Homo sapiens: one gene and its partners. The protein of the gene in region 2 purifies or fractionates together with the protein of the main gene of each other region. This does not show direct contact. Each region holds a gene or a part of one and is shown on either strand. Other genes may lie near its edges.

What was found.
Region 1: the proteins of TXNDC5 (region 2) and KLHL26 purify together in Homo sapiens (affinity purification with mass spectrometry; 2 studies listed by BioGRID and IntAct, with this or other methods). This does not show direct contact.
Region 3: the proteins of TXNDC5 (region 2) and WDR59 purify together in Homo sapiens (affinity purification with mass spectrometry; 2 studies listed by BioGRID and IntAct, with this or other methods). This does not show direct contact.
Region 4: the proteins of TXNDC5 (region 2) and SPTB purify together in Homo sapiens (affinity purification with mass spectrometry; 2 studies listed by BioGRID and IntAct, with this or other methods). This does not show direct contact.

What each region holds. Positions count from the first base shown.
Region 1 is NC_000019.10:18,640,015-18,647,042, reverse strand, and holds part of KLHL26 (kelch-like protein 26), read right to left. Parts: intron 2,406-7,028; exon of another isoform or gene 2,377-2,405; intron 1-2,376. UniProt on the Homo sapiens protein: May play a role in endo(sarco)plasmic reticulum (ER/SR) mitochondrial signaling. May be part of the ubiquitin-proteasome system (UPS) and affect ubiquitination and degradation of target substrates in cardiomyocytes.
Region 2 is NC_000006.12:7,880,998-7,886,797, forward strand, and holds the end of TXNDC5 (thioredoxin domain-containing protein 5 isoform 1 precursor), read right to left. Parts: intron 5,047-5,800; coding exon 4,964-5,046; intron 3,492-4,963; coding exon 3,362-3,491; intron 2,270-3,361; coding exon 2,147-2,269; 3' UTR 520-2,146; downstream 1-519. UniProt on the Homo sapiens protein: Protein disulfide isomerase of the endoplasmic reticulum lumen involved in the formation of disulfide bonds in proteins. Can reduce insulin disulfide bonds.
Region 3 is NC_000016.10:74,975,113-74,982,140, forward strand, and holds part of WDR59 (GATOR2 complex protein WDR59), read right to left. Parts: intron 1-7,028. UniProt on the Homo sapiens protein: As a component of the GATOR2 complex, functions as an activator of the amino acid-sensing branch of the mTORC1 signaling pathway. The GATOR2 complex indirectly activates mTORC1 through the inhibition of the GATOR1 subcomplex.
Region 4 is NC_000014.9:64,771,885-64,778,912, forward strand, and holds part of SPTB (spectrin beta chain, erythrocytic), read right to left. Parts: intron 3,868-7,028; coding exon of another isoform or gene 3,766-3,867; exon of another isoform or gene 3,535-3,765; intron 3,520-3,534; coding exon 3,241-3,519; intron 2,644-3,240; coding exon 2,513-2,643; intron 1,541-2,512; coding exon 1,336-1,540; intron 1,071-1,335; coding exon 696-1,070; intron 1-695.

The DNA of each region.
Region 1 (7,028 bases), on a different chromosome or scaffold from region 2:
GTGGGCCAGTGCCCTTCTTGGGCTGGCCCAGTTCCACCTGCCCCCATCCCTGCTGAGACGCGCCACCCCCCGCCGCCCCTGCCCCCGCCCTGCCGAGCTCCTGCTCCCAGGCCTACTCCTGGCGGAACCTGCCCTCTCCAGCTCACGCTGGACGTGCTCTACTCTCTCGCTGCCCCTGCTGCTGTCCCTCTTACGGCCCAAGTCATGGCACTACTGTCTTCCCAATGGCTCAAGTTCACCCTCTCCTTTCCCTGCCTGACACACGCACGCCACATCAAGGCTTGCTGGCATTGACGATCCCCTCAAGGCCCATGCGGGCATGGCGGGCAGAAGGATGGCAGTGTCCCCATCATGGGCGTCAGCACTGCCACAGTAACACTGATGAGGTACATGTGACCTCTCCCCACTCGTTTCCTCCCAGACACCCCCCACCTGGTGGGCCTGGAGCCCCATTTCCCAGATGAGGAATCTGTCACAGCCACAACCCATAAAGAGGGAGCCACAGTCACCCATGGGTATGATGAGACACCTCATGCCGCCATATCTGACCACATTTTCCAGGAGAAGGACTTGAGTCCACGTCTTGGAAGGGTCAAAATCCTCCTTCTGAAAGGGGCATGAGGCCGGGCGCACTGGCTCATGCCTGTAATCCCAGCACTTTGGGAGGCCAAGGCAGGTGGATCACCTGAGGTCAGGAGTTCGAGACCAGCCTGGCCAACATGATGAAACCCCATCTCTCCTAAAAATACAAAAACTAGCCAGGCATGGTAGTGGGCGCCTGTAGTCCCAGCTACTTGGGAGGCTGAGGCAGGAGAATCACTTGAACCCAGAAGGCGGAGGTTGCAGTGAGCCAAAATCATGCCACTGCACTCCAGCCTGAGCTCAGAGTGACGTCAAAAAAAATTAATAATAATAAAAAAGAAAGGGGCAAGAGGCCAAAGGAATGAGAACTTCCCCAAAGTAGCAAGAACCTCCTTGGGAAGCCACCTCTTCCCCTAAGTCTTCCTAGCAGGAGCTGGGGGGCTGGACCCTTCCAAGGCCTCTGGGCTTGGTGGAGATGATCTAGATTGTGGAGAAAGCTTCAACAGGCAAAGGCCACCCAGCCAGACTGACTGTGACAAACCCACCGGGCGCAGCGTCTCGGCCACAACTTTCCATGCAAACACTTTCAGCAGGCAGCAAAGCCCCTGGGCACAACGTCCCAGCCATCACTTCTTTTTTTTTTTTTTTTGATACAGAGTCTCACTCTGTCGCTCAGGCTGGAGTGCAGTGGCAGGATCTCGGCTCATTGCAACCTCCTCCTCCCAGGTTCAAGCGATTCTCCTGCCTCAACCTCCAGAGTTGCTGGGATTAAAGACGCCCACCACCACACCTGACTAATTTTTGTATTTTTAGTAGAGAGGGGGTTTCACTATGTTGGCCAGGCTGGTCTCAAACTCTGGACCTTGTAATCTGCCTGCCTTGGGCTCCCAAAGTGCTGGGATTACAGGAGTGAGCCAAAGCACCCAGCCTAGCCACCACTTCTTATGCAAATGCCTGAAGCTGGCACATCCCTCACCCAGATCCCCCCACCTCACCCCCAGGAACAGCATGACTCAGTGAGCCTGGGCCCTACCCAGGCGTCTCCAGGGAGCGTGGGCCAAAAAGCGTGGATGCCAAAGGCCCATGTCGGAGAGGCTGCAAGGCCAGAAGGTTCCTCCAAAACTCTGCCGGTCAGGTACCTCACAGTGACAGAATTTTAGCTGGGGAGGTGCGACTCCCCAGAGGGTTTGCCTCCCCTTGCGACACCCCAAGTGGCCCAAGCCTCCTTTCCCTCCAAGGAGTCTAGACCCCGCGGCCCGAGCTGGGAGGAGGCCAGCTGGTGAACAAGTGTCCTTTGTGCTTGCAGCAAGGACCCCACCTCCTCTCCGCACACCCCAGCCAGGGCAGCCCCACTCTGTCCATCCCTGAGGTTCGGCTCAGTCATTAATGACCACCTCTACTAGGCAACGGGTTTTTTGTTGATCCCTCGAGATAGGAAGGAAGGAGAATAAGCTTTTCTCTTTCTTTTTTCCCCCTCGGTTGCAGAAGACAGAAGTTGGAACAAACAAGTTATATAACGTTGGGGGCGGTCGGGGGTGGGGGAGCGCAGTCCCTCCTGGGGACAGTTTCTTGAGTTGTGGTACCGCTGGAAGGGCCAGGGGGAAGACAGGAACTGCCCCCGCCCCTGGCCAAAAGACAAAACCTTCGTGGGACAAAAAGGCAGATGCGGGCGTTGCCTGGCAGGCTAGAAAGGCAGCTAGAGACTAAGGCCAGCCCCCACTGCCCCCCAGCAGCCCCACAAGCCTCACTGGAAAGGCAAAAGATCGACCTGATCCCATAGAAGGGAATTCCTACCTGCCAGACTGCAAGCCTCAGAGAGCAATAAGCTTTTGCACACCCCCATCCCTCCCTTCCTCCCTCTCAGCCACGTCTCTGGGACACTTCCTCCTTCTGTGTCATTCATGTTCCAGGCACACAAGAGGGCACAAGAGAGACAGGCTTTCCAACCTCAAGGCACCAGAGAAACACAACAAATAACGTTAGGTGGTGACCAGCATGATCAAGAATATACAACAAGCATGCGCCCCAGCAATTCTGCTCCTAGATGTGTACCCCAAAGGACTGAACATGAGTGTTTAGACAAAAATGTGTACACTCATGTTCATAGCAGCATGATTCATAATAGCCAAAAGGTGGAACCAATCTAAGTGTCCATCAACAGATGAATGGATGATGTGGTGCATCCACACAGTGGAATATTACTCAGCCATAAAAAGGAATGAAGTGCTGATTTAGGCTACAACATGCATGACCCCCAAAGCATCATGCTGAGTGAAAGAAGCCAGACTCAAAAGGCCACATAGTGCATGATTCTACCTATAAAACTTGAAAACGGATAGAGACAGACTGCAGATTGGTGATTGTCAGGGGCTGGGCAATGGAGAATAGGGGGTTAGTGCTAATGAAGATGGGGTCACCTTTTGCGGGGACAAAGATGTTTTGGAACTGGACAGCAGTGATGGTTGCACAATTCTGTGAATGTACTAAATGCCACTGAATTGTTCACTTAAAGTGGGTGAATTTTGTGTTACATATATAGTACCTCAAAAACAAAAAACAAAAATACAGGTTGGGCATAGTGGTTCATGCTTGTAATCCCAGCACTTCGGGAGGCTATGGCAGGAAGATCACTTGAGCCCAGGAGTTCAAGACCAGCCTGGGCAACATAATCAGACCCCATCTTGGCCGGACACAGTGGCTCATGCCTGTAATCGCAGCACTTTAGGAGGCCAAGGTGGGCGGATAACCTGAGGTCAGGAGTTCGAGACCAGCCTGACCAAGATGGAGAAACCGCATCTCTACTAAAAATACAAAATTAGCCAGGCATGGTGGCACATGTCTGTAATCTCAGCTACTCGGGAGGCTGAGGCAGGAGAATCGCTTGAACCCAGGAGGCGGATGTTTTGGTGAACCGAGATCATGCCATTGCACTATAGCCTGGACAACAAGAGCAAAACTCTATCTCAAAAAAAAATAATAATAAGACCCCATCTCTATAAAATAATATATATATTTTTTAAGACAGTCTGGTTCTCTCGCCCAGGTGGGAGCGCAGTGGAGCGATCTCAGCTCACTGCAACCTCTGCCTCCCGGGTTCAAGTGATTCTCTTGCCTCAGCCTCCCGAGTAGCTGGGATTACAGGCACGTGCCACCAATCCTGGCTAATTTTTGTATTTTTAGTAGAGAAGCGGTTTCACCATGTTGGCTAGGCTGGTCTCAAACTCCTGACCTCAAGTGATCTGCCCACCTCGGCCTCCCAAAGTCCTAGGATTACAGGCATGAGCCACCGCGCCCGGCCCAAAACAATTTTTAAAAATTAGTCAGGTGTGGGCTAGGCACAGTGGCTCACGCCTGTAATCCCAACACTTTGGGAGGCCAAGGCAGGTGGATCACGAGGTCAGGAGATCAAGACCACCCTGGCCAACATGGTGAAACCCCGTCTCTATTAAAAATACAAAAATTATTTGGGCGTGGTGGCGTGCACTGGTAATCCCAGCTACTCAGGAGGCTGAGGCAGGAGAATCGCTTAAACCCAGGAGGTGGAGGTTGCAGTGAGTCCAGATTGTGCCACTGCACTCTAGCCTGGGCGACAGAATGAGACAATGTCTCAAAAAAAAAAAAATTAGGTGTGTTAGTAGATGCCTGTAGTCCCAGCTACTCGGGAGGCTGAAGCAGAAGGATAGCTTGAGCCCAGGAGGTCAAGAAGGCTGCAGGTAGCTACGACACTGCATGCCAGCATGGGCGACAGAGTGAGACTCTTCCTCAAACCAAACCAAACAAACAAACAAAAAACCACAAGCCGGGCGCAGTGGCTCACGCCTGTAATCCCAGCACTTTGGGAGGCCCAGGCAGGCAGATCACCTGAGGTCAGGAGTTCCAGACCAGCCTGGCCAACATGGAGAAACCCCACCTCTACTAAAAATACAAAATTAGCCAGGCTTGGTGGCAGGCGCCCGTAATCCCAGCTACTCGGGAGGCTGAGGTAAGAGAATCAGTTGCTTGAGCCCGGGAGGTGGAGGTTGCAGTGACCATGCCACTGCACTCCAGCCTGGGCAACAAAAGCGAAACTCCATCTCAAACACACACACACACACACACACACACACACACACACACACACACTAGGTGACTAGCAAAAGTGTCCTGGGGACTACTTGAGCTTGCATGGTCAGGCAGGTGGCTCTGAGGGGCCAGAACCTTGGAGAGTGGAAGGATGAAGAGGAAGGAGACGTGGGCAGGTTGAGGCGAGGAGGTGGGTCGTGCTCCAGGCCTGGCTGTCCCATTTGCAATAAATGAAGGAACAGACGAACAATGCTACAAAGACTCAATGTCTCAAAATGACTTTTGGGAGAATGTCTTGTACCAATCTCCCTCAAAATATGATCCATTTTCTGCATGCTCCATCTTGCCACATTAGGGGTTCTCCCCACACTAGCACCTGAGGCATGAGATGCCCCTATCAGTTGCTCCAAACAGTGATTTTTCACTAGGATGGAGGATAGGGGAGAATGACAAAGATGTCTTTTAAGAAAGAGGGCCGGGCATGGTGGCTCACGCCGTAATCCCAGCACTTTGGGAGGCTGAGGCGGGCAGATCACAAGGTCAAGAGATCGAGACCAGCCTGACCAACATGGAGAAACCCCGTCTCTACTAAAAATACAAAAATTAGCCGGGTGTGGTGGCACACGCCTGTAATCCCAGCTACTCGGGAGGCTGGGGCAGGAGAATTGCTTGAACCTGGGAGGCAGAGGTTGCAGTGAGCCAAGATCACGCCACTGCACTCTAGCCTGGGCAACAGAGCAAGCCTCCATCTCAAAAAAAAAAAAAAGAAAAAAGAAAAAGAGCCGGGTGTGGTGGCTCATGCCTCTAATCCCAGCACTTTGGGAGCCTGAGGCAGGCAGATCACCTGAGGTCAGGAGTTTGAGACCAGTCTAGCCAACATGGTGAAACCCCGTCTCCACTAAAAATACAAAAATTAGCCGGGTGTGGTAGCATGCACCTGTAATCCCAGCTACTCGGGAGGCTGAGACATGAAAATCGCTTGAACCCAAGAGGTGGAGGTTACAATGAGCTAGGATCGCACCACTGCACTCCAGCCTGGGCAACAAAGCGAGACTCAGTCTTAAAAAAAAAAAAAAAAAAAAGGCAACCCAACTTAAAAATGGCCCAAACATTTGAAAAGACACGTTACCAAAGAGATGAATAGCTAAGAAGCTCATGAAAAACTGTCCAACATCATTAGTTATTAGAGAAATGCAAATTAAAACCAAAATAAGACTGGGAACAGTGGTGTGCACACCTGTAATCCCACTTATTCCAGAGGCTGAGGCCCGAAGATTGCTTGAACCCAGGAGTTCCAGGGTGCAGTGAGCTAGGATCGCACCATCGCACTCCAGCCTGGGCGACAGAGTGAGACCTCATCTCACAAATAAATAAATAAATAAAAACACCAAATGAAGACACCAGCACACACCTATAAGAATGGCTAAAACTAAGGACTGGCCATACCAGGTGTTAGTGAGGATGAGGAGGAGCTGGAACTCTTGAACATTGCTGGTGGGGATGCAAAATGGTACAGCCACTTTGGGAACAAGCTTGGCAGTTTCCTAAAAATTAAAACATGGCCAGTCTCAGTGGCTCACACCTGTAATCCCAGCACTTTGGGAGGCCGAAGCAGGCGGATCCCCTGAGGTCAGGAGTTCAAGACCAGTCTGGCCAACATGGCAAAACCCCGTCTCTACTAAAAATACAAAAATTAGCTGAGTGTGGTGGCGCATCCTTACAATCCCAGCTACTCAGGAGGCTGAAGCAGGAGAATCACTTGAACCCAGGAGACAGAGGTTGCAGTGAACAACTGCTGGGCAACAGAGAGAGACTCCATCTCAAAAAAAAAAAAAAAAAAAAAAAAATTAAAACATAGCCAGGCGTAGTGGCTCACACCTGTAATCCCAGCACTTTGGGAGGCAGAGGTGGGAAGATTGCTTGAGCCCTGGAATTCAAGACCAGCCTGGGCAACATGGCAAGACTTTGTCTCAACAAAAGCACAGAAAAAATAGCTGGGTGTGGTGGCATACGCCCTTGTAGTACCTACCAGCTACTTGGAAGGCTGAGGTGGGAGGATCACCTGAGCCCAAGGAGGTAGAGGCTACAGTAAGCCGTGATTGCACCACTGCACTTCAGCCTGGGCAACAGAGTGAGACCCTGTCTCAAAAAAAAAGAAATTTAAACACATCTACCATATGAACTAGTCATTCTACTCTTAAGTATTTACCCAAGAGGATGAAAATATACGTCCACACAGAGACACATATCCAGATGTTCACAGCAACTTTATTTGCAGTTGTCAAAATGGAAACAACCCAACAGTCCATCAACCAGTTAATGGATAAACAAACTGTGTCCGTCCATACGAGATTGTATGGACGGACACAGTTTGTTTATTTTCA
Region 2 (5,800 bases):
TCTTTGCTAGTACCAAAAGTAGACTGATTACACTGAGGTGAGGCTACAAGGGGTGTGTAACCGTGTAACACGTGAAGGCAATGCTCACCTCTTCTTTACCAGAACGGTTCTTTGACCAGCACATTAACTTCTGGACTGCCGGCTCTAGTACCTTTTCAGTAAAGTGGTTCTCTGCCTTTTTACTATACAGCATACCACGCCACAGGGTTAGAACCAACGAAGAAAATAAAATGAGGGTGCCCAGCTTATAAGAATGGTGTTAGGGGGATGAGCATGCTGTTTATGAACGGAAATCATGATTTCCCTTGTAGAAAGTGAGGCTCAGATTAAATTTTAGAATATTTTCTAAATGTCTTTTTCACAATCATGTACTGGGAAGGCAATTTCATACTAAACTGATTAAATAATACATTTATAATCTACAACTGTTTGCACTTACAGCTTTTTTTGTAAATATAAACTATAATTTATTGTCTATTTTATATCTGTTTTGCTGTAACATTGAAGGAAAGACCAGACTTTTAAAAAAAAAGAGTTTATTTAGAAAGTATCATAGTGTAAACAAACAAATTGTACCACTTTGATTTTCTTGGAATACAAGACTCGTGATGCAAAGCTGAAGTTGTGTGTACAAGACTCTTGACAGTTGTGCTTCTCTAGGAGGTTGGGTTTTTTTAAAAAAAGAATTATCTGTGAACCATACGTGATTAATAAAGATTTCCTTTAAGGCAGAGGCTGGTCGAGATGCTGCTGTTATCTTCTGCCTCAGACAGACAGTATAAGTGGTCTTGTTTCTAAGATTCCTACCACCAGTTACTTTGGGCCAAGTATCCACATCCCCTTGCGTATGGGAGGTGGGTGAAGAGTGTTGGATGCAAAGTGGTTATTATGGGAAGTAGCTCGATGGTAAAAGGACAAACACCTATCTATCTTAGAGCTTAAGCCTGTATGTGCTTATTCCCAAGGGAGATAGAGGTGTTTAATCACAAGGACAGCATGAGTTAGAGGACACTGGCATCAACAGCTGCCACAGCCGTGCACACCAGGGCCAGAGCAGCCCACTGACATCTGTCTTTGGTCTTGAGATCAAATGCATCCCATTCTTCATACATTAGAAGGTCGACCTCCTTGAAGCAGACCAAGTATAGCAAGCCTCTAAAAGGACTACTGAGAAACAGAATCAGAAACTCTAGAACTCTAGTTAGGGCCCTTCAGCAGGGCTGCAGAGCCTCCCTGGATACCCAGGCCTGGGAAAGCCTGTCTGGTCTTGTCACCCCAGGTGACAAATACAACTGGAATCTTTCAATGAGTTAATGAGATACTGAGAATGAGCCTCGTGGAATTTTCCATGCCTACCCTTTCTAAGGAAGACATCCAACAGTTCATGTGGGCTCTGGCTTCGTGTTAACATGAGGAACTAAAGACATGTTTCACCCCGTGAGAAACAGAAGGATCCCCTGAACAGTAACTGATTTGACAAGTATCGACACATAAAGTTATGGCATCAGCATTCTCTTACTCAGGCACGGTCAGAAGTAACGCTGCTTTCATCACGGCTAACCTCTCACACTGAGAGAAGTATTCACAGCAACAGAAGCTCCAGCAGCGGCCGTGAAGGTATCTTCCAGAGGTGTGGGTTTTTGCATTTCAATCTGCTCCATGCTACGGACCAACACAGTATTGAGTCAACTGTGACCTTAAGATCAGAGGAACGTCAATACTGCCACAAGGCCACCTTTCCAGAACTCGTGGGCAGGTAAACTATGCTTTGGATGTGCTTTCTTTCACCAAAATCACTCAACTCAGGAGCCACAAATAGTCCAGCAATTTCATTTCCCTCAACGCTATTTTAGTCTCAAAGGAAACCATGTAAATTTCATCAAGAGAAGGTCAAAGGGGATATATCGCCACTGAAAATGTTTACACAGTGACCATGAGTTACACATTTACTTAGAGAAACTTAACTTAATAAAGAATCTGTAGAGTGTGTTGGCTTGGAAAACACACACACAAAGAAGATACCTCACGCTTAGTATGTTCTGCTTTCTGAACAGCCACCACTGGGAACCCAGTGGCCTCTGTGGGACTGAACTCCTAAACGCAGGGTGCGGGAGCTGGGCAGGAGAGGTGACCTCCAACTGTGTTCCTAAAGTTCGTCTTTCGCTTGGCTCAGGACAAAGCGGTGTAACGAGTCAAGGTCTCTGCCTCCACTGTGCTCACTGACTTTCTTCCCTCCTCGGAAAAGCAATAACGTGGGGTAGCCTCGTACCTTAAAACAAAAAAGAAAAAAGTTTGCAAACCAGCGGTCCAGATCACATGCAAATTGCTTCCTAAATAAAACCAGATACACTCCTACCGTTGTGGCTGGAAAAATTCTGTGGCTAATTTTTAAAGGTGTATATTCCATTAAAACAGGAGCAGACTACTGTTTAGAAAGCACAGCCGTGGGGCTGTGTGTTCACTTCTGAATTCAAAATGACATCATTAAAGATCAGCCTCAAAGGAACGACTTTACCCTAAAGCAGACGCTTTCAGTCTTTACTGTGCACACGATCACCTGCGGATCTGCTGAAGGTGCAGATTTGGATTGAGCAGGCCTGGGAGTCTGCATTTCCAATGACCTCCCTGGCGATGCCCTGGTGGTCTGCAGACCAGACCATGAGAGCAAGATCCTCTTGAGGATACATGTTTCAGTGGCAACTCGTTTCTAAGAATTTTAGGGCACAAAAAACAACTGGTATCTTTTAATGATAAGGAAACTATGTCTGGGTTACGTCTATTCTCCATCTAAAGGGCTCCAAAAGTGTCTGAATAACAAAGAAGAAAAAAAATGACAAATCTTCCAGGCCATCAGACTGTGCTAACAGCTTGGAATGAAGGCAGTAGTTAACCCAAGCACAGGACCGACTTGCTGGCATGGCCCTTTCAGAAAGGAGGTTATGTTGAAATGATTCTTAGATTCAGCCACTGCATTTTATAATGCTGGCTTATGTGTGAAAAATGAGCGACTCGGGTATTTATGGCAAAGGCTACAGACCACTGGTCAATCATCAAGAGTCGCGGTGTGGGAAGCCCCACAGTCTATGGCGTGGGGTCTGTTACTTCACGGCCTTGTTACTCAGACAGCAAGGCCTGAAAACCTGCACTGAAACATGGATACTAACTACAAAGCGGGCGAAGAAGAATGCCTTCCCTTTGAGAGAGGATCTCTTTTGCTTCTCCAAACAAACAACTCAAAGGGACATAAAAACCACATTGTTGAGAAGATGAGAGCAGAGTGAGTTATCGTGGTTGAGGCACAGTTCCCTTGGGATCTGCCCCCATACTGAGAGCTCCCATAAGCATCCATCCAAGTACCCACCGAATACTTGCTGCAGATATTCCGTTCAGCAGTGCAGTCTACTTCGGCGATCTTGACCCCCGCCAGACCAGGGAATTCCTTTTTAGAGAGTTCCTCCCAAGTAGGAGCCAGAGTCTTACAATGACCACACCTAAGACGAGAAAAATGGCAGCTTCGTTGAAATCCTGGGTCGAGATCATTCACCTACACTCTGCTGCCAAGACAAGCTCTGTTTCTTCTGTATGGGACAGTCAACAATTGCCTAGAAATTTGTAAAATACCAAATTCTCCCACTGGGTGCACATTAACTCTTCCTCCTCCTATCCCAAATGAAGAACCCAAAAGTTGATCCAAGGTAGACTTTCAGATAATGTGACAGAAGCAAGCCAGTCTCAAAACAAGTTGAGATTCTGAGACCATTTCCATGCCATGGTGAACTGTGCTAACTGGTTTATGAAAGCACAGGAGCAGAGGAACAGGGAACAGGGCAGATGCCACACAATTTCTAAAAGGTCACTTGAATGCCAAAGACATTTTAGATTTGATTGCTTATGGTCTCACAATTTCAAAACCATTTTAAGGCCTCCTTGGTACTTCAGCGATGTGGGGTGAGCATCAAGGCCATGATTAAGTTTGGTTCAAACCCTCCCTTCTACCCGACTCTGTTCCCTTGTCTCTTCTGACCCCCTCCTGCCGTATGGATGGCTCCCCTTCAGCCAAAGGGGATCCTCCTTTTTGATACTTGATCTGTGGAGCTTTAGGTTTTTAAATGTTGCAAATGATTTGAAAGGCATTGCTATGGTTCGTTCAAGTCCTGTGCTTATTAACTTTTTACCCCTATGGTTAGTTTCTCAGGAACATGTGGAGTGTAACAAACAAGAAAAGTGACGCCTTTATCATGTTTAGATAAACAATCTACTGTTGTCCTAACACTCTGCTTTTCCAAATGGATTGTTTTATTTGTGAAGACAAAAAGTTACTCCCATTTTTCAGCTGAGGGAACTGGGGTTCAAAGGAATTAAAGGACATCCAAGTTTACTATACAGTCATTCACGGTAAGTCTTAGAACCAAGGTTGTCTGGATCTCACACTACCTGCAATCCATTTCTGCTCTGGTCTCCAAGACCACGTGGCATGCAGGTTCAGGAAACTGCGTAGCATACTGAATGGCTCTAACAGACTCTACTGGATTTCTCTACAAAAGAAATCCGAGTACTTAAAAGAACCGAGGAGCAAAGCTACATCATGACACTCATTGTTTAGCCAAAAAGAAAAGCCATCTATTTGGAAAAGTGCAGATACCACAAAACTGAATATGGCCATCATAATTTGCCTCCATTTTTATGTTTTCTCCAAAGTTGATATAACTTTAGCCTCATTCTCCATATATAATCAAAGTTGATATAACTGTAGCCTCATTCTCCATATATAATTAAGGCCATTGAAGTTTAAAATATTTGAATATAGGAGCATGATAACGGTTCCTTATTTCCTACAACATGACCTACATATAAATGTAACATGTGCCCAACATTGAGTCTGGAGGGGTGGCAGATGAGCTGAAAAACATGATGTGACTTAGTACACATGGACAAAGTAGTTTCTAATTAAACAGCCACTTACCATGGAGCATAAAACTTGATGAAGGTTATTCCTTCTGCAATGGTGTCATCGAAGTTATTTTCAGTGAGTGCCAACACAGTGCCCTTCAAGGGAGGAAAAAGCCACAGTTCAAGTACATCCCTTAAAGTTGAGCAGGGCCATGCTTTGGGATTGCAGATACACGAATCAGTAATTTTTTAAAAATGCAGTTACGTAGGCTCCAAGGTCACACAGAAATACCTACACAATCTGCATTTCATAGGCTACACACAAAGGGAGGCTGGCAGCCTCTGAAGGGCAGAGAGATCAATGCAAGTCCCTGGGTCCCAAGCCTGGGAGATGTGGTGAGGAGGTGGCTGGACACTGTACAGGGGATGAAGGTGGGGAGGGGGACTGTCTTTTGGGGATGAGGCAGGTTGAAAACTCTCCAGGGCGCTGTGGTGTGGACCAGGCAGCCCTGGGTGTCTGACACTTGAGTCTGCACCTCTAAGCCTGGAGTCTCCAGGATACCCACTGAAGTCTCATCCTCAGCCGCTTTTCTCACTGGCCACCCTATTCTCCTAGCACCCTTTGTGACATCCTCTCTATGCAACAGAAAGAACCTAGTTACAATAGCAAAGGCAATGATACCTGTTTTACATTGAACATAAAAATGGAAAGCAGCCTGTTCTAAGTCAATGTGAAAAACGCTGATGGAAGCTCTGGCTGGAGAATTTAAGGGAAAGGTGCTACATGGTAGTCTGCTTTAAAGCCATTCTCCCTTGACAGTTCTTTACAGAATGACGTCTATGTGTTTCTCCAAAAATGGATCTGCGATTCTCTCCTGAGAGCAGGAATGGGATGATTTATCACGTGGCT
Region 3 (7,028 bases), on a different chromosome or scaffold from region 2:
CACCTTGGGATGCCAAGGTCGGTGGATCACCTGAGGTCAGGAGTTCAAGACCAGCCTGGCCAACATGGCGATACCTCGTCTCTACTAAAAATACAAAAATTAGCCAGGCATGGCAGCACACACCTGTAATTCCAGCTACTCGGGAGGCTGAGACAGGAGAATCGCTTGAACCCAGGAGTTGGAGAATGCAGTGAGCCTATATCGCGCCACTGCACTCCAGCCTGGGAGACAGCAATACTCTGTCTCAAAAAACAACAAAAAAAAACAAGGCTGGGCACAGTGGCTTATGCCTGTAATTCCAGCACTTTGGGAGGCCAAGACGGGTGGATCACCTAAGGTCAGGAGTTTGAGACTAGCCTGGCCAACATGGTAAAACCCCGTCTCTACTAAAAATACAAAAAATTAGCCGGACATGATGGCAGGCGCCTGTAATCCCAGCTACTTGGGAGGCTGAGGCAGGAGAATTGCTTGAACCTGGGAGGTGGAGGATGCACTGAGCCGAGATCATGCCACTGCACTCCAGTCTGGGCAACAAGAGTGAAACTCCGTCTCAAAAAAAAAAAAAGTAAAAAAAAGAAAAAAAAATTTAAAAAAGAAAACTGAAGCTTAGAAAGGAAGTAACTTGCCCAAGATCACATGGAAGACAGGTGGCATAACCTAAATCTTAACACAGTCTGGCACGAAATCCTTAACGTCTTTGTTCTTCTCCCATTCATCACCACATCTTTATATTAAATTTTCTAGAAAAAAAAAATAGGCCAGGTGCAGTGGCTCATGCCTGTGATCACAGCACTTTGGGAGGCTAAGGTGGGAGGATCACTTAAACTCAGGAGTTTGACACCAGCCTGGGCAACACAGTGAGACCCCCATCTCGATGTTAAAATACACATATATAAATTTATTTAAAAAAGAAAAAATATTTCACAGTATACATATTAATAGTCACTTACACCAAAAAGTCCTATTCTGCCCCTCCATCTCTATAGTTTTTCAAAATGAACATTGTATGAAACTAAAAAAGTAGGAACCGAAGCTGGATTGCTCCAGAAAAACACACAGATTATTAATTACTTATAATTTTGCTCCTAGCCAAATAATTTGAGTTGTGCTTTTTTATTTTAGTTTTTATTAGAGTAAAACACAGTCCTCAATCTTTATCTTTGTGGCAAAGCTGTTGCAATGCTGAGACTAATAAATCACCAACCATTATTAGGTCAGAAGAGAGTATACTTTCTGCTGAGATGATTCATTTTCAATTTCAAGATAAAAGAAAATATTGAGGAATTTCTTTATGAATCTAGGATACGAACGTTTTTCTTTTTCTTTTCTTTTTTTTTTTTTTTCTTTTGAGACGCAGCCTTACCCTGTCGCCCAGGCTGGAGTCCAAGGGCGCAATCTTGGCTCCCTGAACCTCCACCTTTTGGGTTCGAGCGATTCTCCTGCCTCAGCCTCCTGAGTAGCTGGGACTACAGGTGCCCACCACCACACCTGGCTAATTTTCTGTATTTTTAGTAGAGACAGGGTTTCACTGTGTTAGCCAGGATGGTCTCGATCTTCTGACCTTGTGATCCGCCCACCTTGGCCTCCCAAAGTGCTGGGATTACAGGTGTGAGCGACCAAGCCCGGCCTAAACATTTTTCTTAAGAAGACTTAAAAAGAATTTGGGAGGCCATGGTAGGTGGATCATTTGAGCCCAGGAGTTCGAGACCAGCCTGGCCAACATGGCTCTATAAAAAATACAAACATTAGCCCGGCCTGGTGGTGTGTGCCTGCATTTCCAACTACTTAAGAGGCCAAGGCAGGAGGATCATTTGAGCCCAGGAGGCAGAGGTTGCACTGATTCAAAATCACGGCACTCCAGCCTGGGCGACATTGCGAGACCCTGTCTGAAAACAAAAACAACAAGACTGAAAAAGCATAATCCATAAATTTAACTGCATTAAAATTAAAGTTCTGTTCATCAAAAGACAGCACATAGCTGGGAGTGGTAACTCACAAATACAGACACAGTTACTTGGGAGGCAGAACCAGGAGGATCATTTGAGACCAGGAGTTCAAGGAGGCAGTGCACCATGATCGTGACTGTGAATAGGCACTCCAGCCACAGTAACAGCGAGATCGCATCTCAAAAAAAAAATTTTAATTTAAATTAAAAAAAAATTTTTAATACCATAAAAAGAATGAAAAGGCAAGCTACAACTTGGGAGAATGGATTTACAATATATATAACCATACAGAACTGGAATCCAGAAAAATTTTTACACTCTTCTTAATCTATAAGAAAGAGACAATGCAGCCGGGCGCGGTGGCTCGCGTCTGTAATCCCAGCACTTTGGGAGGCCGAGGCGGGCAGATCACGATGTCAGGAGATCGAGACCATCCTGACTAACACGGTGAAACTCCATCTCTACCAAAACTACAAAAAAATAGCAGGGTGTGGTGGCGGGCGCATGTAGTCCCAGCCACTCGGGAAGCTAAGGCAGGAGAATGGCGTGAACCCGGGAGGCGGAGCTTGCAGTGAGCTGAGATCGTGCCACTGCACTCCAGCGTAGATAACAGAGCAAGATTCTGTCTCAAAAAAGAAAAATAAATAAATCAATAAATAAAAATTGGCCTTGATACTTATCTACTTATAGCAGCTTTCTTCAGTCACTAAAAACTGGAAAAAAACTAAATGTCCATAAACAGGTGAATGAATACACAAATTGCAGTCTATATACTGGAACACTACTCAGCAAGAAGAAGGAATGCACTAACAGATAGGCTCAACAACAAGAATGAATCTCAAAAGCACTAGGCTAAGCAAAAGACGCCAGGTAGGGTGGTGGCTCATGCCTGTAATCCCAAAACTTTGGGAGGCCAAGGTGGGAGGGCTGTGTGAGGCCAGGAGTTCAAGACCAGCCTGGGCATCAACAGCCAGATTCCACCCCCACAAAAAATTTTTAAAAATTACCCAGGACTGGCCAGGCACAGTGGCTCACGCCTGTAATCCCAGCACTTTGGGAGGCCAAGGTGGGTGGATCGTGAGGTCAGGAGTTCAAGACCAGCCTGGCAAAGATGGTTAGCCAGGCGTGGTGATGGGCTCCTGTAATCCCAGCTACTCAGGAGGCTGAGGCAGAGAATCGCTTGAACTCAGGAGGCAGAGGTTACGGTGAGCCGAGATCGTGCGACTGCACTCCAGCCTGGTGACAGAGTGAGACTCTGTCTCAAAAAAAAAAAAAAAAAAAAAAAGAGCCAGGCCTGGTGGCATATGCCTGTCGACTCAGTTATTCAGGAGGCTGAGATGGGAGGACACTTGAGCCCAGGAGCTGGAGGCTGCACTCAGCAAGGACTGTGCAACTGCACTCCAGCCTGGGCAACTGAGAAAGATTCTGTCCCTTCAAAAAACAAAACAAAACAAAACAAAAATGAAAGCCAGACTCAAAAGGCTACACATCATATCACATGATTCCATTTGTTATAGAAATCCCATCAGCAGCTGCCAGAGATAAGGGATGGAGATTGAGTACACAGGGGGACCAAGGAACTGTTTGGAGTGATGGAAACGTTCTACATCATGATTACGGCAGTGGTTACATGACTACATCCATTTGTCAAAACCCAACAAACTCTACAATTATACCTGCATAAACCTGGATTTTTTTTTTTTAATCACTCTGGCTATATGGAAGATAAAATGGAAGAAGGAAATGCTACTGTGAGGGAAGAGTTGTCTCCAAGTATGTTCAGCTGCTTTGGACATACAGAGCTTGATTTTCTCGCAGATCCTGAAGTGGAGACACGAAGTAGGCAGCCACCGTGGGTCTGCAGTTCTTCTCTTCAACACAGGAGTCATCCACTGCAGCACTTTTGCAAATATCATTAGGTTAGCCTTGTAACTGCACATTCCAGCATCTTACCTTTCCTTGAGAGTGAAAACTAATCTCCACACTTCTCAGTACTCTGAACTGTACTTTCCAATATCATAGCCATTAGCCACAGTGGCTATTTAAATGGCAATTAAAATGCCATAAAATTGAAAATACATCTGTCGCACTAGCCCCATTTCCATCATCACTGGAAGTTCTACAAAACAGTGATGCTCTGGGCCAGGCGCGGTGGCAGCATTTTGGGAGGCCAAGGCGGGCAGATCACGAGATCAGGAGATTGAGACAATCCTGGCTAACACAGTGAAACCCCATCTCTACTAAAAAATACAAAAAAATTAGCCAGGCATGGTGGCGGGCGCCTGTAGTCCCAGCTACTCGGGAGGCTGAGGCAGGAGAATGGCATGAACCCGGGAGGCGGAGCTTACAGTGAGCCAAGATCGAGCCACTGCACTCCAGCCTGGGCGACAGAGTGAGACTCTGTCTCAAAACAAAACAAAACAAAACAAAACAAACAAACAAAAAAACAGTGTTGCTCTGGAAGATTACCTGCAAGTTGTGTGTTTTTTTTGTTTTTTTCAGATGGAGTCTCGCTCTTGTCACCCAGGCTGGAGTGCAGTGGCACGATCTAGGCTCACTGCAACCTCCACCTCCTGGGTTCAAGCGATTCTTCTGCCTCAGCCACCCGAGTAGCTGGGATTACAGGCACCCACCACCACACCCGGCTAATTTTTGTATTTTTAGTACAGATGGGGTTTCACCATATTGGCCAGGCTGGTCTCGAACTCCCAACCTCAAGATCCGCCTGCCTCAGCCTCCCAAAGTGCTGGGATTACAGGTGTGAGTCACCACACCCGGCCTTTTTTTTTTTTTTTTTTTTTTTTCTTTGAGACAGAGCTTCACCTTGTCACCCAAGCTGGAGTGCAATGGCGTGATCTCAGCTCACCACAACCTCCAACTCCTGGGCTCAAGCAATTCTCCTCCCTCAGCCTCCCGAGTAGCTGGGATGACAGGCATGCACCACCACGCCCAGCTAATTTTTATTGTATTTTTAGTATTTTTAGTAGAAACGGGCTTTCACCATGTTAGCCAGGCTGGTCTCGACTCCTGACACAGGTGATCCACCTGCCTCGGCCTCCCAAAGTGCTGGAGTTATACGCGTGAGCCACCATGCCTGGCCTAAGTTTTCTTATAGTGTTAACACTCATTGATGCCAGGAAGCACTTCACAGTAGTTGCCAAGCAGCACAGGCTCTTGATTATTAATTAGTGACAGTAATAGCCCAAAGCATTGTTTCATAAAATAAATGGCACTTTTATAAACTATAAAAAAGACTTTCACACTTCAGACTGGGGTTTTCCTCTGAAAAATCTAAGTCTTTTTTTTTTTTTTTTTTGAGACAGAGTTTCGCTCTTGCCCAGGCTGTAGTGCAACGGTGCGATTTGGCTCGCTGCAACCTCCGCCTCCCAGGTTCAAGTGACTCTCCTGCCTCAGCCTCCCGAGTAGGTGGAATTACAGGCACACGCCACCATGCCTGGCTAATTTTTGTATTTTTAGTAGAGATGGGGTTTCACCATGTTGGCCAGGCTGGTCTCAAACTCCTGACCTCAGGTGATCTACCTGCCTTGGCCTCCTAAAGTGCTAGGATTACAGGCGTTAGCCTACGCCCAGCCAAAAAATCTAAAAGTTTTAATTTTAAAAAATTATTTTCAGACCAGGTGCAATGGCTCACATCTGTAATCCAGCGCTTTGGGAGGCTGAGGCAGGCATATCACTTCAGGTAAGGAGTTCAAGACCAGCCTGGCCAACATGACGAAACCCCATCTCTACTAAAATACAAAAATTAGCCCGGTGTGGTGGGGCACGCCTGTAATCCCAGCTACTCAGGAGGCAGGAGAAGCACTTGAACCCAGGAGGTGGAGGTGACAGCGAGCTGAGATTGCGCCACTGCACTCCAGCCTGGGCAACAGAGCGAGACTCCATCTCAAAAATAAAAAAATATATATTTTTAGGCCAAGGTGGGAGGATCACTTCAGCTCAGGAGTTCAAGACCAGCCTGAACAAGAACGTAAAGCCCCATCTCTGCAAAAAAAAACACACAAAAAGGCCGGGTGCGGTGGCTCACGCCTGTAATCCCAGCACTTTGGGAGGCTGAGGCGGGCGGATCACAAGGTCAGGAGATCGAGACCATCCTGGCTAACACGGTGAAACCCTGTCTCTACTAAAAAAAATATATATATACAAAAAATTAGCCAGGCGTGGTGGTGGGCGCCTGTAGTCCCAGCTACTTGGGAGGTTGAGGCAGGAGAATGCCGTGAACCTGGGAGGCAGAGTTTGCAGTGAGCAGAGATCATGCCACTGCACTCCAGCCTGGGCGACAGAGAGAGACTCTGTCTCAAAAAAAAAACAAAAAAAACACACACACACAAAATTGTGGGGCTTGGTGGTGTGCACCTGTATTCACAGCTACTCAGGAGACTGAGGTGGGAAGATCACTTGATACCATAAGGTTGAGGCTGAGGTGAGCCAAGATTGCACCACTGCATTCCAGCCTGGGTGACAGAGCAAGACCCTGTCTTACACATATATACATATATATTTTTTGTATTTTTTTAGACAATACATATACATTTACATATATATATATATATATATATATATATATATATATATATATATATATTTTTTTTTTTTTTAGATGGAGTCTCACTCTGTCGCCCAGGCTGGAGTACAGTGGTGAGATCTTGGCTCACTGCAACCTCTGCCTCCCAGGTTCAAGCTATTCTCCTGCCTTAGCCTCCCAAGTAGCTGGGATTACAGGTGCATGCCACTATGGTCGGCTAATTTTTGTATCTTTAGTAGAGATAGGGTTTCACCATGTTGGCCAGGCTGGTCTCAAACTCCTGACCTCAGGTGATCCGCCTACCTCGGCCTCCCAAAGTGGTGGGATTACAGGCGTGAGCCACCACGCCTGGCCATATATGTATATTTTTTAGGCCAGGCACGGTGGCTCACGCCTGTAATCCCAGCACTTTGGGAAGCTGCAGCAGGAAAATCACTTGAACCTCGGAGTTCAAGACCACCTGGGCAAGATACAGAGACTCCTATCCCTATTTAAAAAAAAAATGCAAAATGAAAGAAATTTAAATATTTTAATTAAAA
Region 4 (7,028 bases), on a different chromosome or scaffold from region 2:
CAGCCAGCCTACCTCTCCCTGCTGCACTGGAAGCTGGGGGAGCCCTCAGCAACAGGGGCCCCCTTGCATTTGCCCTTTCTATCACACCAAGCTCTGGGGCACCCTACGGATCTGCGGAGGGCACTCCAGTGATGGGGCAGGGGTCTGAACAGTAGAACTTGGGGGCTCTCCAGCTCCCATGTGGAAAGGCTGAAGTGCCCGGTGGCTAAGTATGTGGGGTCTATAGCTAGACTGCCAGGGTCTGAGCCCTGGCTCCACTTCGTACCTACATGTTCCTGGGAAACTTATGGGTCTTCTACCTCTCCCTTTTCTCATCTACAAAGTGCAGGGAATATTAGTAGCTGCCTCAGAGGACTGCCATGAGGGTCCAGCGGCTACATACATTGCTCAGAAGAGCACCTGGTGCTAGAAAAGTGCTGTGCGTGTGTCCACTAATAGTACTGCACAACTGGAGAAACTGCAACCGTATAGTATTGTATGCATTGGCCTTTTGTGAGGATTCAGTTTAAAGAATGACTTCTGAAGCTAAGGAACATCTGAAAGCCACTGCTCCCAGCCCTGAGCTCCTGGCTGTCTAAGGAGGCAAAACCTCCTGGCACTTATCCTAGAGGTTTTCCTGCTGACAGCCAGGTGGGGACTGACACCCAGGGCTCCTGGAAATTGGTAGCAGGTGGGCGGCAGGGGGCTGAAGGTACCTGGACACCCAGCAGGTGGAGCTCCCGCTCGAAGGCTGTGTGCACCCGGTGGAAGGACTCGGCCGTGCTGGCGTCCAGCCCCACGTCCTCGGGCAGCTCGCGGTGCTTCTCGTCGATGAGGCCCAGGATCTCGGCACCCGTGTAGAAGTAGCGGTGCAGGTCATAGGAGGCGGCCAGCAGCTGCATGCGCGTGTCAATGAGCTCCAGGAGGTCTGCCCACATCTCGTTCAGCCCGTCCTTCCACTCGGCGATGGTGGCCGCCTCGCTGTGGCCCGCGTCGATGAGTCGCTCGATGAAGGCATTCACATTGTCCACCCGCTCCTGCCCAATCGCCCCGGTCTCCCGGGCAAAGTCCCGGAACTTGTCCCGCAGAAGCTAGGCATGGGGCAGACAGAAATGTGGTTATGGGGGGCACAGGGGTTACAGGTGTCACCAGCTTAGCCAAAGACTTTCCCAGGCAGCAACTGCAGCTCCGGGAGCTGCGCTGTCACACCTTCCCCAGGGCAGGCCTGCATCGGCTGGTCCCGCCTCACACTGGGGAGGTTACGTCCTATGCAGCACTCTGTGTGTCTTGAGTGACGGCTGGCTGCGTCTACCGCATTAGAGAAAGACAAAAACAGCAGGAGTTGTGGCTACTCACAGTCACGTGGTCAAAGTCTTGCCCCATTTCCGGGGAAGAGGCCACTAGCTCCTTTTCTGAAATCCACTGCTCCAGGTCGTCGGTCTCCCGCTTGAGCTGGAACAGGTGGTACATGTTCTCCAGCTTGCGCTTGCGCTCTTCCGCCACGTCCTTCAGCCCTGCGTAGTGCTTGTCCACTTGCCCCTGAAGTCTGATGATCTGTTCCCTGGAATTCAAAACCAAAAAGGCCCTCAGAGACGGCAGCCACGAACCCAGAGCCGTGGCTCCAGGGAGCCAACATATGCCAACCACAGCCCCCTGGCAGGGATAGGTAGGGAGTGAAGCTCTGGAGAAATGACAGGGGCTTTGCCGGGGAAGAGCTGGGGAGAGAAGGGGCCACACCCTAGCCTCAGGGGATGACACACTGTGTCCTGGAATTCTGTCCTGGAGGGGTGCTTCCCATGGTGCCCCTCACTCTGGCAAGCTTACAGGGACAAGTGCAAATGGGGAACGCCTCCATTGTTCTTCCAGAGAGGCTGGGGGAGCAGCACTACCTGAGTGGGGCTCCCGCAGCAACAGCTCTGCTCAGCCCTCCAGGGAGGGAAAAGACATACTAGGGGCCCAGACAATGTGGCTCCCAGGGAAACCTCTGGGGTGGCTGCTGAGGACCCACAGTGGTGGGCACCCTAATGGCAGCTGAGGACAGGGCCATGGCTGGGGGCAGTGTGTGGTCTGTGGCCCAGTGGGCTTCCATTTATGCAGGATCCACAAAACCTCGCAGCCCATGTGGGCACAGGTTTCCACCTGCACTCCTACATCATGGTTCTGTCTGGACTGTGAAGTCCTGGAGACCTTCTGGACCATAAAAATAAAAGCTAAAGTAGTCTTCAGTGTCCCTTAGCATATTGTAACCCTTCGGAAAATTGGTGCTCTCAGGTCACCAAGAGGGTAGTTTTGCTAACCCCTTCTCTGATCATTTCGAAAACCAGGGCCTCGATGGCCCAGCTGGAAGTGATTCACACAAAACCAAGGCATAAAATGAAATTGGATCCATCACCAGTCCCGCAGCAATTTTCTCCAGCCCTATTTGATGGGAAAACTCTTTCCATTTTCCTTTTAAATCTGAAGGGACGTTGGCTGGTGGGCCCCTGGCTCAATCCCCATCTCCTGACCGAGTCACCACAGGGGGCGCACGCACCCCTCAGGGTGGCCTGCAGACAGCAGGCCCTGGGCCCGGCTGGCCAGCTGCTTGATGTTCCGGCCGTAGTCCTCCACCGCACGCTGCTGCCGCAAATGTCGCTTCAGCATCACAATGGCGCCCTCTTCATCCTAGGAGGCAGCAGACGGTCAGCGCCAGAGCTCAGTCTGGCCATGATCCCTCCCTTGGCAAGTTGTGCCCCCACTCCTGGAGGTGCCCGAGGGAGGAGGGGAGTAGGCTTGTGGGACACCCGCAGGAGAGCCACACATGCTTCCTTCCTGCCCTTCTGATTTCCCAGCAATGCCCGTGCCCTACCTTCCTCTCTGGACTCCCCTGATTCGTATCCGACATATACCCTTCCTTTTGTGCTCTAACCCCTGTCCCCATGAAAACATCCTATATCATTCCAGCTTTGAGAGACCCCCACCTGTCACCTCTCACCCCATCTCTTTCATAGCGTACAGAATCCAGGGTAAAGAAAAGTAGAGAACCCTTGGGTTAGAGCAAACCTAAGTGGGTAAACAGGAGGCACCTGGCTTCAGTGTGTGCCCTGCAGGGGTGTGTTCAAGGAGGCACCAAGGGAGGGCAGGGAGTCTGTGGGTTCCTTGTGCCCCTCCCCTGGCCTCACTCCTCACACAGTTGGACTCACAAGGCTCCCTACCGACAGCCAACCTCAACTCTTCCTCTCTGCCTGGGCACCCTGGCTGGTATCCCCTGCCCGAACAGACCTTGGGGATCTCATCGGAGATGACGTAGAGCTCCTGCTCGCCAATCCAGGCCTCAGCCTCGTCTGCATCCAGGTAGTACTGCTGTGCCTCGTTGGCGTCCCTCAGTCGCTGCAGCCTCCCGGCCGCTGCCTCCCGCAGCCTGTCCCAGGAGCTCTGCAGGTGCCCCAGGCGCTCCTCAAGGTCCTGGCAGTCGATCTCCGCCGCCTCCACCAGCTGCTGCCCTCTCTGCAGCACATCCTCAACCCGCGGCGTATGGCCCAGAATCTCATTCTGCAGTGTCTGCGGCCAGAAGGAAGGGCTCGGGGCAGGGCCTTCCCACCATGCGGGGGAGGCTGCTTCAGCAGTGGCAGCACAGCTCTGACACCCTTGGTCCCTCTCACCCCCGTTGCTAGAGCAGAGCAGGTGATGGCGATAAGAACTACCAATGACCTCTTGCGGGCTGCTAAGCACCTCATGTGCACCATTCTTGCACCCTCAGGTGGCCTGCTGAGATAAGCATGTGGAGACCAGCATGCAGCAGTGAAGTCACTCAGTGGCAGAGCCGGAGTTGAACACAGCTCCACCTGACCTGGCAGCCTGTGCTCTTGACTGTCCCCTATCTTCCTGTGCTTCAGCAGAGCTTGATTCCTTAGGTGTATGTGTTGGAAGGAAAAGAAAAATGGCCTTTTTGATACCTTATTCTAACAGCTTTTGCAGGATTTATGCAGGATCATTTACGCAGGATACGCCCAACCCAGCAGCTCAGGTGGGCACAGTTTTTGCCTTCCATCTAAAAGAACAGGTGACAGCAGCCCCTTGCTTACAGTCTCAGCTTTTGTTTTTCCCTACTTCTATTTCTCATATTTTTGTGAGCTTTGCATTAGTCCCTGTTTGAGCCTTTGGTCATGAACACAGCCTCTTCCTCCCACCCTGGTGGCTGGTCACCTTTTTCTTCAGGAGGCCCTGACACGTGTTACTTGTTTTCTGGGTCCTAAAGACTGGGCTAGCTGCTGCTGGTGTGTGGGCTCCTGAGCTCCATATACCTCACTACCTGTTTCTTCCCTCTCTATATAATTTTCCTGTGGCCTTTAAAATTGGAAGGCAGGGGCAAGAGCAGCCCACATGAGCAGCACAGTGATGGCCAGCATTTAAAATATGCACAAAATAACCACATCTACAAGTCACATAACCTGCTGAAATGCATTTTTACACTTTATGCTCAGAACCTCAATTTTTACAATTTCCTATAGTCTCTGCAGTTGCATTCAAACAACCCATGTTTTCAGCTCCATTTGCTTGTTTACTCTGAGATCTTATGACCTCTGCATGGTGCCCTAAAAATTAATTTCTTTTTTTTAAGATAGGGTCTCACTCTAGTCACCCAGGCTGGAGTGCAGTGGCACAATCAGCTCACTGAGCCTCAACTTCCCAGGCTCAGATGATTCTCCCACCTCAGCCTCCCAAGTAGCTTGGACTACAGGTATGTACCACCACATCTGGCTAATTTTTTGTATTTTTTGTAGAGATGGGCTTTTGCCATGTTGCCCAGGCTGGTCTCAAACTCCTGGGCTCAGGCGATCCACCCGCTTCGGCCTCCCAAAGTGCTGGGATTACGGGTGTGAACCACTGCGCCCGGCCTAAAAGGGTATTTCTTCCTTTTTAACCAATTACTTTCTAGTATCTGTGCAGGGTACTTACATTTAAAGTCTTCTTCCCTGTCTTCATTCATTCAACAACTATGTATTAAGTTCTTTTCTATGTACCAGACCCTGGTCTAGGTAATAGGGACAATATAGAAACAAGAGAAATGAAAATCCCTGCACTTTAAAGCTTACAACCTGGTAGAGGAAATAGAAGGTAAACATGCAAATAAATGAATAAACAAAGGCTGGGCCTTCCTCCCTGGGGGCTACGAGGAAAAGACAACAGTGGGATGGAGAATGTCTGCTGCGATGTGGCAGGAGCCACTTTAGCTAAGGGAGTCAGGGAGGGCCTCTCTGAGGATACGAAACTTGACCATGACATGAATGACGGGAGGGAGGCAACCACACAGAGATCTGGGGTTGAGTGTTCCTGGCAAGAGGACTGAACAAGTGCAAAGGCTCTGGGGTGGACATGAGCTGGGACCGTCTGAGGCCACAGAGAGGGCCAGAAGAGCTGGAATACTGTGAAGGAGGGCAAAGTGAGAAGAGCTGAGTTTCAGAAGCAGGCAGGGGTCAGGTCAGGCAAGAGTGGTTCTTAATCCTGATTGCCCACTGAATAATCCAGGGAAACAGATGCAGCTAGGGGCCTACCCCCAGAGATCCTAATTGATCTGAGGTGAGACCTGGGCATTCATCTGTCTAAAAGTTCCCTAGGTGATGTGAGTGTACAGCCAGGGGTGAGAGCCCTTCATGTACTACCTTGTGGAATTTGTTCTAATTGCAATGAATAGCCCTGGGAACAGTGGTCCCCAAAGTGCAGTCCTGAACCAGCAGCATCGGCATCACCTAGGATCTTGTTGGAAATGCAAATTATTAGGCTCTACCCCCAGAGCTTGATGCAGTAGGGATCTGGGGGTGGCACCTGGTTAAGTCGTGTAAACTCACCCAGAAGGCTTGTTAAAGGAGTTGCATATTGGAGTTTGACAACCATTGCAACAGAGGGTTTTAGGTGAGGAAATGATAAAATTGGATTTATGGTTTAGCCAGGTGAGCCTAAAATAGTCTTCATTAGGGCAGTCACGCTGTCCCAAGAGGCTGCCTTTCCCTTCTTGGTTAGGGGAACCCCATCCGTATTTGTCTTGCCCTTTTCCCGAAATAGCAACTGCCAGCCAGGGGAGTTAAAAACCTTTGAACAATAACACTTACAGAGGCTGCATAGAATCAAAAATCCTAGTGTTGGAAAGACTAGAGTTGGCTCATTTTACAATTAAGGAAACTGAGGTCCCAAGGATACCATGTCCTACCAGCCTTCCACCTTTAGCTGAAGGTTGTGGCATTAACTGAGGCTAGATTTCTATCATCTTCTAGCCCAGGTCCCTGCGTGTGGCTGCTGGAGCCTCTGCGACTAGATCATGTCAACCAGAAGCAAAGGGCCTAAGGCAGCTTTGAAGAAACTTCTCTGAATATAATCTAGGCCTCTGCACTGCTGCTGGGCTCACATGGTCCTGTGAGCAGATGTCAGCTGCTGCCAAGCTGGGGGAAGGGAGTGCTGTCTGCCATGACCTTCCTTCCTCAAGGAGCTGCAATACTAACCGGGCACTCTGGGACATGTCACTTTTATCTGGGATCTAAGTTCCTGGGCTCTCCTTGCTGACCCAGAGAGCATGCAGAGGGAGGGTCTCTCTGTCCAAGAAGGGTCTGTGGCCATTCCCCTGGCCGCTGCGACCCCACACAGCCAGCTTCCTTACATGATTCAGGCTCCCACTGCAGCCCTGACCCAAGAGGGAGTGCTTGGCATCTGCTCACATCCAGGATCCTGACCAGGGCCACAGGAGTTCCCAATCAGGGCTAAGCGAGTGCCAAAAAGCAGAGGGATGTTTGCTCCAAGGGCTCAGAGTCCAAAGTTAGTGGCTTCCTAATGGAATTTGAGCCCCACAAGTATCCTCATATGTCGAGAGAAATGGGGCCTACTTACCCCAAGGACACCACACATGCCAAGCTCAGCCCTGGAAGAGGGGCAAGGCAGTGTTGTGGGAGAGAGATCAGGAGTTACTGCCCTCCTCTCAGGCAGACCACTGGATACACCGAATACACAGCTACTGAAGCACATCAACCTCCAGGCCAGGCCCCCGAGATCCTGCATTCACCTGTGCCTGATGGAGGCTG